Linked DNA regions of Homo sapiens. The protein of the gene in region 1 purifies or fractionates together with the protein of each later gene. This does not show direct contact. Each region holds a gene or a part of one and is shown in the gene's direction. Other genes may lie near its edges.

Evidence for each region.
Region 2: the proteins of TRIM58 (region 1) and KRT9 purify together in Homo sapiens (affinity purification with mass spectrometry, with the first as the bait; one large-scale study listed by BioGRID). This does not show direct contact.
Region 3: the proteins of TRIM58 (region 1) and NUP50 purify together in Homo sapiens (co-immunoprecipitation; one large-scale study listed by IntAct). This does not show direct contact.

The regions. Positions count from the first base shown.
Region 1 is NC_000001.11:247,860,176-247,863,824, forward strand, and holds part of TRIM58 (E3 ubiquitin-protein ligase TRIM58), read left to right. Parts: intron 1-441; coding exon 442-537; intron 538-3,649. UniProt on the Homo sapiens protein: E3 ubiquitin ligase induced during late erythropoiesis. Directly binds and ubiquitinates the intermediate chain of the microtubule motor dynein (DYNC1LI1/DYNC1LI2), stimulating the degradation of the dynein holoprotein complex.
Region 2 is NC_000017.11:41,569,125-41,573,567, reverse strand, and holds the start of KRT9 (keratin, type I cytoskeletal 9), read left to right. Parts: upstream 1-1,508; 5' UTR 1,509-1,575; coding exon 1,576-2,217; intron 2,218-3,347; coding exon 3,348-3,430; intron 3,431-3,552; coding exon 3,553-3,709; intron 3,710-3,980; coding exon 3,981-4,142; intron 4,143-4,443. UniProt on the Homo sapiens protein: May serve an important special function either in the mature palmar and plantar skin tissue or in the morphogenetic program of the formation of these tissues. Plays a role in keratin filament assembly.
Region 3 is NC_000022.11:45,170,320-45,173,968, forward strand, and holds part of NUP50 (nuclear pore complex protein Nup50), read left to right. Parts: intron 1-668; exon of another isoform or gene 669-858; intron 859-1,280; coding exon 1,281-1,364; intron 1,365-3,649. UniProt on the Homo sapiens protein: Component of the nuclear pore complex that has a direct role in nuclear protein import. Actively displaces NLSs from importin-alpha, and facilitates disassembly of the importin-alpha:beta-cargo complex and importin recycling.

The DNA.
Region 1 (3,649 bases):
TTAAGGAGCTAGGCCCAGTGGCTCATGCCTATAATCCCAGCACTTTGGAAGGCCAAGATGGGAGACTCTCTGGAGGCCAGCAGTTTGACACCAGCCTGGGCAATATAGTAAGACCCCATCTCTACAGAAAACAAAATTAGCTGAATGTAATGATGTGTGCCTGGAGTCCTAGCTGCTTGGGAGGCTGAGGTGGGAGGATCATTTGATCCCAGGAGTTTGAGGCTGCAGTGAGCCATGATCGCAACACTGCACAACCTGAGTGACAGAGCGAGACCCTGACACTAAAACTTAAGTACATTTATGTTTAGTTTTTAATGATATTGAACATTTTTATGTGCTTTCTAGGGACTGTTTAAGTTGACTTTTGTATTTCCTCACACATCTGTGTGACGTTAGGTACAGATTGAGGGCATCTGTAACAGCTGAAATGTTCCCAAACAGGTAAAGCTCCAGATGGCTCTGGAACTTATGAGGAAAGAGTTGGAGGACGCCTTGACTCAGGAGGCCAACGTGGGGAAAAAGACTGTCATTTGGAAGGTAAGACCATGTTGGGGCTTTAGGAGGCTTGCCTGTTTGAAGGATCCAGATTCGGGTCAGTAATTCTTCTACCATCTTCCATTCTCCAGCACTTTTGTTCCATCTCCATATATGCCCAAGAGCACCTCAGAGCCATCCTGGGTCATCCCGTCCCCTCAAATGATATGGTTCATTTTTGTTCTTTTTGTCTCTACTGCCATCACCCAATCCAAATTATAATTAAATAGCTTTGCTAGTTTGATCTTCCTGTAAAACCCACTGCTGTATCCCTGTCACCTAGAATAGCATCTTATACTGTTGCTACCAGTTTGAAAATATTTGTTAGGTGAATGAAATAATGAATATTTCACAACTTTGTAACAGAAGAAGTGTAGCCCAAGGTGATCATCTTATATACAGGGTAATAATCTGAACGTTTAGCCTTTTTTTTCTATCATCTATACATACACATATTCCATTTTTTTATACCTCACTAGCTCTTTTTATTCCATGTTTCATTCATGCACATGTGCGTGCACACGTGTACACACACACACAGTGATTCATACACACACAGTGATTCACATACACACACACACACAGTGATTCTCAACCTGAGGCGATACCTGCCCCCCAAGATAACATTTTGCAATTTCTGGAGATGATATTTTTGGATGTCACAACTGAGGAGGGGTGGGTGCAGTGCACCTGTCATCTAGTAGAGGCAGGAATGCAGCTTAACACCCTGTAGTCCACAGGACAGTTCCCATATCTTGTGAGGAAAAAATGATCTGTTCAAGATGTCAGTAGTGTCAAGATTGAGAAACTACGTATAGAAACTGTGTGTATAGTTCTATATATTCATATAATGTATTATATAATATGATATATAATAGGTTATACTTTGCAGAATATTCCTATTCTTTCTCCTTTTCCAAATAACCCTTCTTTTCTGATCACTCTATATATTTATAATTATTTCCTTCTTGTTTTCTTTGAAAATTTAGTCTTATACTCTGTCTTTATACAGATATTACATAAAGACTTTTTAAACTATATTTTTCTTTATTTACTACATTACTAGATTACAATATAGATATATACGGATAGGAAAAGATAACACTTATCCCAGAAGAAACATGTACATTAAGGCCAGGCGTGGTGGCTCACACCTGTAATCTCAGCACTTTGGGAAGCCGAAGCAGGTGGATCACCTGAGGTCAGGAGTTCGAGACCAGCCTGACCAACACGGAGAAACCCCGTCTCTACTAAAAATACAAAAAAAAATTAGCCAGGCGTGGTGGCACATGCCTATAATCCCAGCTACTCGGGAGGCTGAGGCAGGAGAATTGCTTGAACCTAGGAGGCAGAGGTTGTGGTGAGCTGAGATCGTGCCATTGCACTCCAGCCTGGGCAACAAGAGTGAAACTCTGTCTCAGACAAAAAAAGGAAAAAAGAAAAGAAAAATGTACATTATAGGTAAATGATGTAGATAGTGATAGGAAAGGATAAAAGTTATCAATATTAAATAATATTGATGTTAATAACATTAGTACCTAACGTTACTCAGATGTGTGAAGAAATATTTAAACTTATTAACGTTGATACTGACAAACTTATCAATATTATTAACAAATATCTTTAAACTAGTAGTGACAGTATAAGATGCAATTCTAGGTGATAGGGATATAGCAGTGGGTTCTGCAGTAAGATCAAGCTAGTAAAGCATAGTTTCGATTGGGTAGTGGCAATGGAGATAAAAAGAACAAGAACAAAGCTTTACAGTATTAAATAATGTTCATTACTTGCCTATAATGTACATAGTGGTAGGATGTACATTATTTAATATTGTAATATTGATTGATAATTTTTGTTCTTTTCAGGCTGAAATACAAGTCAGTTGTTTTCAATCCTGGCCTGACCATAGATCTATAAAATCAGAATCCCCATATCGGAGAGCTGAGTTCCTGCATGTTTTAAGCCCTCTACAGATTATTCTTAAGTAGGGATGATACTAAGATCCCTGTTCTAAGCCAAGTAAACTTGCATGATCATTACCATCAAGAATGTCTCCATGTGAGCCAAATGCAGCAAACACATCTTTGGTCAAAAGTTATTCTAAATACTGCAAAACCACCTTTCCTTTTTCTCTGTCTGCAGATATAGTTGTGCTCAAGAGGGTGGTGTGAAAGGAAGATGGATTGCAGGCAAATCGCTTCCCACCTTCCCACCTCACACCCCCTCGTGCCCCAGGTATGACTCTACCCTTCTCCAGTGGCTGCGTTATTTGCCCCACCCCACGACAGCACAGCCTCTGATATGAAGAGAGCTTCTCATATTTACATGAGTTACACTTTCAGGAATCAGTGTATGGAATTCAGACTTGGCTGATTTCAGAAAGAAGATGAAGTTTTCTGAATCTGGTGATTTAGAAAATGGTGGAAGGAGGTAGAGATGGAAAATGGAAGGAAGTAGTTAAGTCTTAGGGGATGTTTAGTTTAAAAAGGTGATAGCTCATGCCTTTTAGTCAAAGCAAGAAGTTATCACGTTTAAAAACAGGCAAATAGGCTGGGCACAGTGGCTCACGCCTGTAATCCCAGCACTTTGGGAGGCCGATGCGGGCCGATCGTGAGGTCAGGAGTTTGAGACCAGCCTGACCAATACGGTGAAACCCTGTCTCTACTAAAAATACAAAAATTAGCTGGGCATGGTGCTGCGTGCCTGTAATCCCACTTACTCGGGAGGCTGAGACAGGAGAATCACTTGAACCCAGGAGGAGGAGGTTGTAGTGAGCCGAGATCGCGCCACTGCACTCTAGCCTGGGTGACAGAGCGAGACTCTGTCTCAAAAAAAAGATTAAAAAAAAAACCAGGCAAATGACTTCACCTACAAGGCCGTATAACAATGTAACAAAACTGCATTTGTACCCCATGAATATATACAAAAAATAAAATAAATCGATAAAACAGGACAGAGAATGGGAGGTATAGATACTTTGAGGGAATAATTTACCTCTCGTACTCAGCTTAAAGTTAGTTTTCGATATACTTATCTTGAGAGAAGAAAATCTAGAAACTAAGCCTGGGACGAAGTATGTTCCTTAGGTCTATTCAGAAACTGAAGACGTGAGATT
Region 2 (4,443 bases), on another chromosome or scaffold:
GCAGTCAGAGGGATCACTGAAGATGGGTAGTTTTCTGTGTAGAAAAGATGGAGTGGGACATTTCAATCAGAGGTCACTGCAAGTGCCGAGTATTCTTAGAGGGAAGAAGGGCATTTGGGAAGCATTGTATGATTTTCTAGGGGGCCTGGGGGATGGTGGGAGATGGGGCAGGAATGGAAAGATGGGGATGGGCCTAAGTGCCAGGAATGTGGACCTTATCTTGAGGGTGGAGGGAAACTGGTGAAGTGATGTTGTCAGACATGGATTAGAAAGGTCATTCTGGCTGCTGTGCAGGAAGAGTCAGAGGGAATGGGAGAGGCAGGGAGGGCAGTTAGAAGCTCATGGCTAAGGTCTGGGTGAGGGCAGAGTTGACGGGGAGTTAGGGGGCTGAATGATCAGAGGCAGCCGAACATTTTTTGAGCACTTCTCACAAGTCTCTTACTAGGAGATGGACAAACTACTCATATCAACCTTTTTCAAAGGAGGAAACTGAGGCACAGAGTATTTAAGTAACTTATCAAAGTCACACAGCTCATGAGCATGGAGCTGGATGGAGCTCAGGTAGGCACACCGGAGACCAGCGTGTTCTTTACCATTCTCTTCTGGCCTTGGTGACCAGAATATACATCCAAGTTTCTGCCAGGAGCAGGGATAAGTCACACATCTCTGTATCCCCTCCAGAGTTCTGTATGGGGTAGGCACTCAACCAAGGTCAATTCCACACTCCCTGCTGGGCCCTGCAAAAGGACCAGGACAGTCGAGCCACTTGCATTCCTGCTCAGAGGTCAGCTAGTGTCAGCACCACCTTGTTTATTTGGTCCACTTTCTTCTTCCAGCCCTTTGTGTGAACTCTGCACGCTGTCCTTTAGTGCTGGCGGGCATGGTCTCGGTGCCCGTCTCCATCTTTTGGCCATGCCAGTTGCCTCCTCATCAAACTGGAGTCTCCCAAGGGCAGAGCCTCAGACTCTGCAGAAAGCCTCGAGGATCCTGAGAGCAAGGATTGGTTTTCATCCATTTGGGGCTCCACAAGGGCAGGGGCTGTGCCTCCCCCTCCTCTATGATAACTCCTTAGTACCCTAGTTCCAGCTCAGCTCACAGTGGGCACAAGGTGGGAGCAAGGAGGCATGAGGGATGCAGACAGTAATGACCATCAATAGAGGAGGTGACTCTGCTCTTGGGAGTTTCTATCCCGAAGGGGCTAAGTCTCAGACCTGCTGTTGGGGCCAGCCAGAGACCAGACTCCAGGATCTAGGTCACCCCTGTGGCAGTACAGCTGATTTATGGTGGCCCTGACAGCCTAATGTCATCAAATTATCCCACACAATGGAGAGAGGCTGGGCCGCCCCCAGGCAGTCACCAAAGGACGCTGAGCCTGGGGCAGCCCGGCTGCCTCCGTATCCCAGACCTCCCTCGGGTCTGTGGGGGGAGGCTGGCACAGAACAAGGGCACACCCAGGCGTGCCACCTTCAGCTGGGGGTATAAGTAGGCAGCCCCAGGGACAGCTCTGTACCCTGCACTTGGGAGCCGGTAGCACTCCTATCACTGCTTCTCAACCCGTGAGCTACCAGCTGTGTCATGAGCTGCAGACAGTTCTCCTCGTCCTACTTGAGCCGCAGCGGCGGGGGTGGCGGGGGCGGCCTGGGCAGCGGGGGCAGCATAAGGTCTTCCTACAGCCGCTTCAGCTCCTCAGGGGGCGGTGGAGGAGGGGGCCGATTCAGCTCTTCTAGTGGCTATGGTGGGGGAAGCTCTCGTGTCTGTGGGAGGGGAGGCGGTGGCAGTTTTGGCTACAGCTACGGCGGAGGATCTGGGGGTGGTTTTAGTGCCAGTAGTTTAGGCGGTGGCTTTGGGGGTGGTTCCAGAGGTTTTGGTGGTGCTTCTGGAGGAGGCTATAGTAGTTCTGGGGGTTTTGGAGGTGGCTTTGGTGGTGGTTCTGGAGGTGGCTTTGGTGGTGGCTATGGGAGTGGGTTTGGGGGGTTTGGGGGCTTTGGAGGTGGTGCTGGAGGAGGTGATGGTGGTATTCTGACTGCTAATGAGAAGAGCACCATGCAGGAACTCAATTCTCGGCTGGCCTCTTACTTGGATAAGGTGCAGGCTCTAGAGGAGGCCAACAACGACCTGGAGAATAAGATCCAGGATTGGTACGACAAGAAGGGACCTGCTGCTATCCAGAAGAACTACTCCCCTTATTATAACACTATTGATGATCTCAAGGACCAGGTAGGTGCAGGAAACTGTCTCTGTCTTGGTCTCTTTCTCTTTCATTCTTTATCTTCCAAAAAAGTTAAAATGCTAAACTCTAAGCTCAGATAATAGCCAGGGAATCCACCTTTTGGAAATGTACGCTTTCATCAGAAACAAACTTGTGTTTGGTTTCTGGGGATCCCAGGATAGGACTTTGGCCTGTGCTCTGAGTGTTCACTTCCATTTCCTCAACTTTCAGAGTTTGGGCAGAGCAGAGAGGAGACCTGGGTTAACGTGAGCTGAGCTGGGACTGGATGTGGAACCTCCTTTAGGTTTGGTCTAAGTCAATACTTTCTCTTCCTTTGTACTTCTCCTGGGCTTCTTTAGGAGTGTATCTTGATCTTTTAAGGTATTTTGGACCTGACTGTACATGTTGGTTATTCAAGTGTTGGAGAGGATCCAGAAATCTGGGAATGGAAGCTATCTATCCATCCATCCTTCCATCTATCCCTTCCTCCCTCCACCCACATGTCTATCTATCTATCCATTTATTCAGCCACTCAGTTCAGTGAGTGCCTACCCTCAGGGTTGCTCTGGGTAGACATAGTGATGTGCTAGACCTAGTTCTGGTGGAGCTCACGGTCTGGCTCTTCAGTATTCTCAGTGATTCCTCTTGTTTTAACTCCTGCATGTCTCTGAATGTGCTGTTTCTTCTACTCTAAACCTCTTCCATTTATTTATTAATGTTACATCTTAGCCATCCTTCAGGGCCCAATTCAATTGCCAGCCACCTCCTTCCTGAAGTCTTTCTTGATCTCCCATTGCCATAAGCCACCTCTCCTTTCCTTGAACTCTTTTAGGACACTTTTGACTTTGTAGTCAATGGTGGGCTCCCTGAGGAACAGGATGTCAGTAATCTCTAAATCCTACAATGCCCTTTGCAGTAGATCTTCAAATATTTGTTGAATGAATGAATGAAGGCCACACCAAACATCTTCGCTGAAGGCTGGAAGGGGTCTGTGCCATGTCCCAGCTGTTGGAAGTTCCTCATTCCTCTTGAGAATCTTCCTGGATGGAATCCTCACCTCCTGTGGCTTTGCCTGGCCTCTTGCCCTCTCAGCAGTGGTCCACAGCATGATATCATGGCTGTGTCCTTTTTTTTTCAGATTGTGGACCTGACAGTGGGCAACAACAAAACTCTCCTGGACATTGACAACACTCGCATGACACTGGATGACTTCAGGATAAAGTGAGTCCTGCTCCTCTTCTCCTCTCCTGTCATCAGCCCTTACCCCTGAACCTCAGTGCTCTGGAGGTCCTGGTAGGGCCTGGTTCCCTCTTGATTGTTTTCTAACCCTGGCTGGTCTGCAGGTTTGAGATGGAGCAAAACCTGCGGCAAGGAGTGGATGCTGACATCAATGGCCTGCGGCAGGTGCTGGACAATCTGACCATGGAGAAGTCTGACCTGGAGATGCAGTATGAGACTCTGCAGGAGGAGCTGATGGCCCTCAAGAAGAATCATAAGGAGGTAGGTTGCTGGGGCTTATGGCTTACCGGGAAGAGGGAGGAGCAGAAATGCAGAGACAGCAGGGGAGCTTTGGAACATTACCTGGGAGACACCCTCTCCTTTGCTCTTGAGGACACTTTCAACTTCTCCTTGGCATCACCTATGGTAGTGGTTGGGCTTTGGCTTCACAACTGTGTCCCCTTTTTGTACCCTGGGGGGACCAGAGGGAGAATTCTGAAAGGTGGTGCAGAGGACTTTATCCGTGACCTCATCTCCCCTTCTTCCCTGGCAGGAGATGAGTCAGCTGACTGGGCAGAACAGTGGAGATGTCAATGTGGAGATAAACGTTGCTCCTGGCAAAGATCTCACCAAGACCCTCAATGACATGCGTCAGGAGTATGAGCAGCTCATTGCTAAGAACAGAAAGGACATCGAGAATCAATATGAGACTCAGGTGAGCAGAGTGGGCTGCCCATTCATCCTCCTCCCCTCCATCTATTCCTATCTCCATCCCTCCCACCTCCCATTCCTTCATCCTCCTATCTCTGCATCTCTCAGTGCAGCTGTCATTTATCCATCTTCCAATGGAAGTCATTCATCCATCTTCATTCACTGCATACAAACATCATTACAAAGTAGCTTCTCAGTGCCATGTTATATGTAAAGTATTGATGTCTCAGAGGTATTGATGTCTGATATGAGCCAAACAAGACTGCTGCCCTTGAGAAGCTCACAGTTTATTAGATGTGTGTGAA
Region 3 (3,649 bases), on another chromosome or scaffold:
GTTTCCCCCTTCGAGGAGAACACCCGCAAAGCCCAGTAGGGCTGGACTCTACAGTCGTACCTTATCAGCAGTGTGTTACCCCCAGGCCAGATGACTAAGGAAATCTGTAACCACGACTTTCAGGTTAACAGCATAGTGCTAAGTGAAAAAAGAAAAATGTTAAAACTGCAACTGTTTCCAAGCTTATTCTTAGACGGCCATCTTCCTTCTTTTGGAATCTTTCTGGTACTAGTACTTTTTTTCTCTACAAGTGTATCTCCTCACATATGTTTAGGGAAACCAGAATCCCAAGGATGTGAGTGTTTTGACAGGGTCAAAACTGATTTGGTGCTTTTTAACTAAAATCTTTGGTTATGGGGGTTTTTGGTTTTTTGTTGTTGTTGGTTTAAGATCTTAAGCACAGTTACATTCTGGGCTATAGTAACATCTAGATTACCATGTAACTATTTGCTTAGACATTAAAATATTCAGGAATGAAAGAACTCCCATTCGAACATATGCCAATGAAATGTGTGGAAAGATTACATTTAGTTAAGTACATTTAACTTGGGGCAAGTGCAGCCAGATGGTCCCCTCTATGAGTGTAGGAGCCCGTTAAGTTTAATATGATCTGAAACAACTATAGGTGAGAATTTTTGCATGAGAAATATTTTATTCCGACCCTACAGGGTAAAAGAAGGGCTATAAACTAAAGCCGAAGATATTCAGCAGCTTTCTGACGTGGACATCAGAAGTGTGGACATGAGTGTGCTTTGAGCGCACTGTGGAAGAGCAGTGGTTGTCCAGCAAGGTCCTAGGTGCCTCCGTGGCCTTTCGTACAGTGGGCAAGTTGGGCAGGACTCATCTTAAAAATCATGTGTATGTTATAAATAACAAAATTTATTTATTTATTTTTTTGAGACAGTCTTGCTCTGTTGCCCAGGCTGGAGTGCAGTGGTGCTATCTCGGCTCACTGCAACCTCCACCTCCCGGAGGGTTCAAGTGATTCTCCTGCCTCAGCCTCCCAGGTGGCTGGGATTACAGGTGCCCACCACCATGCCCAGCTAATTTTTCATTTTTAGTAGCGACAGAGTTTCACCATGTTGGCCAGACTGGTCTCAAACTCCTGACCTTTGGCCTCCCAAAGCGCTAGTATTATAGGCGCAAGCCATTGTGCCTGGCCAAAATTTATTTTTGAGAGGCCGGACACAGTGGCTCAGTTCTAGCTTGTTGTTGTTGTTGAGGATTTTGTCATCTGTTTGGCTTTATCTTACTGCTGCTTAATTTGTATTGTATTGCAGGTGGGAACATTCTCCATGGCCAGTGAGGAAGTCTTGAAGAATAGAGCCATAAAGAAAGCAAAGCGCAGAAATGTTGGATTTGAAGTGAGTGCCCCCTTACAGCTCTTGCTATTAAATACTCATTTGATTTCTGGGTTGCACAGCAATCCCTCCGCTGGGAGCAATGATATCAACAAATGCTTTCTTAAAATACTTATTCTTTGATGTAGGTCATGGGAGATAGAAAAAAATAAGAAACGTCAGGTCTGGACCTTAAAGAGAGCTTATCCAGTTGAGGAAATAAGATAAATATAGACAAATTCAAGTTGAGTGACAATCTGGAGAAGAAAAATGAGCAAAGCAATACAGAGGTGGGCGAAGTGGCATCAGATTGGAGGAAGAAAGGAAAACGCAAGGATCTTCTGAGAGTCTTGTCTGCTCCCTGCGATTGAGGCCTTGGTAGGGGGAGCCCTTTCACTATACTAGAGGCATTTTAGGTGTGGATTTTTTGCTAGTATAGTATATTAAAATGATTCATTCCTGTGCTAAGAAGGATGGAAGATGAGTTGTAACTCCTAAATTGAAATAATGTGCTGATTATTAAGCAGTCACTCCGCATCTAAGAACTCGTCCCCAGTACATCCTCTCCCTTCAGATACATTCTAGACCCAGGAGAGTGTGGTCTTGGTGGCCTGGACATCTGGTGTTAGGCAGGAGATGCCGCTTTGAATATCCTGGGTGGCAGCTTTGAAATAAACCTACCCTACCTCACGTTTTGCAGTGTTTAAAACATCAAGAATAGACTATATTCTTGGGTGTCTCTAATCTGGAAATCCAAAATGCTCCAAGATCTGAAGCTTTTTGAGCACCAACGTGATGCTCCAAGGAAATAGTCATTGGAGGATCTCAAATGGTCAGGTTAGAGGTGCCGTGCCAGTAAGCATAATGCAGACTTCCTGGGAGCGGAAATACTTACTTTCCTGAGCGTTCTCCTTAAGGGACATGCAAGCTTATTTCCCTTTTATTTCCAAAAAAAAAGGATAGGAAAGGTGTATCATTCACACTTTGAGAAGCAATGAAAAGAAATTGTTATTACAAAAATATTCATTACATTGCCAAAGTTTTGATCATAAAATGTATTAAAGTTTGAAAACGTAAGGAAGGGAGCCAGGTAGGTGGCAGTGGTGGGGAGGCAGTCAGTAAGACGTTTACAACAGCCAGTCACTCAGAGCGTCTCATAAATGGTGGTATGTGTTAATGGGAAAACAATTCAAATTATAAAAATAAAGTATTCGCAATTTTCCTAAAATATATTACTGTATATACCAATATAGTGTAATTCGAGGCAGAGATACGTAATCCTACATGAAATCGATTCTCAGGTGGTTCTGGGTAGTCTTGAACGTCTTTAGGATGCCATGGCTAATGTCATAAGTGTGTGCTCTTTCTCTGCTCCATTGCATGCTTCAGATGCATGAGAGGAGCTTCATTTCCTGACGTTGTAAAAGCTCTTTCATGTAGAATTCAGGTTAACGGGTTGCACTGCCAAGAAAGGAAGTAGGTACAGAGGAAGCATATCTCAGATCCAAGCTAGAGATTAGGTCTTGTGTTTTGTAATTAATTAATTATATTTTGCTTAAAAATTGTATTTCTTATTTGACAAAAATTATATACTTATGGTGTACAACATGGTCTTATTTTCAGATGCATAATACATTTCTACCTGCCTGTTGTACAGTAAACCTCTTGAACTTCAGGTGTTTTTTTTTTTTTTTTGTCTGGTTTGATTTTATGAATTGCCTTGACTGGTGACTAGGTGGTAGACGTAGGTGTTGAGCTGAGTGATATTTGATGGCTCTTTCACTGGGAAGATACATGGGGGGAGGGACAGTTTAATTAAGGAGGAAATGGTTGGTCTTGGAAATGCTGTATTTGAAAGGCCTTGGTACACTCAAGTGGAGTGCCCTGGAAGACCACTAGGTATACAACAGGAATTATGGCAAGGATGGGCACAGCTCCGGCAGCTTTCGTCATGTGGGGGATTGAGGCCATGGGAATGGGCGACAGGAGGCATGCAGGTGGAGGGTCCTACGAGGAGTGAGAAACAAAGCTCACTGCAGAAGCCAAGGGAAGCCATTCTGAAGGAGGGGCAGTCACCTGTGCAACCGAAGGAAGTTCAAGAGGTAGAAATAGTACAGACCATAATCTACAACTTAAGCTGAAGGGATGAGGGAAGGAGAGGGCAGGAGCCCTTGGGCAACTAAGGGAAATTAAGTGTAGGTGGATAATAGAAATCCACAGATAATTTTAGCTGTAACTCTTAGCCTGAAGTTTTCATATATTAGGACAATTAAATGTCATGTCACCCACCAGAATGCTGAAATGCGGCT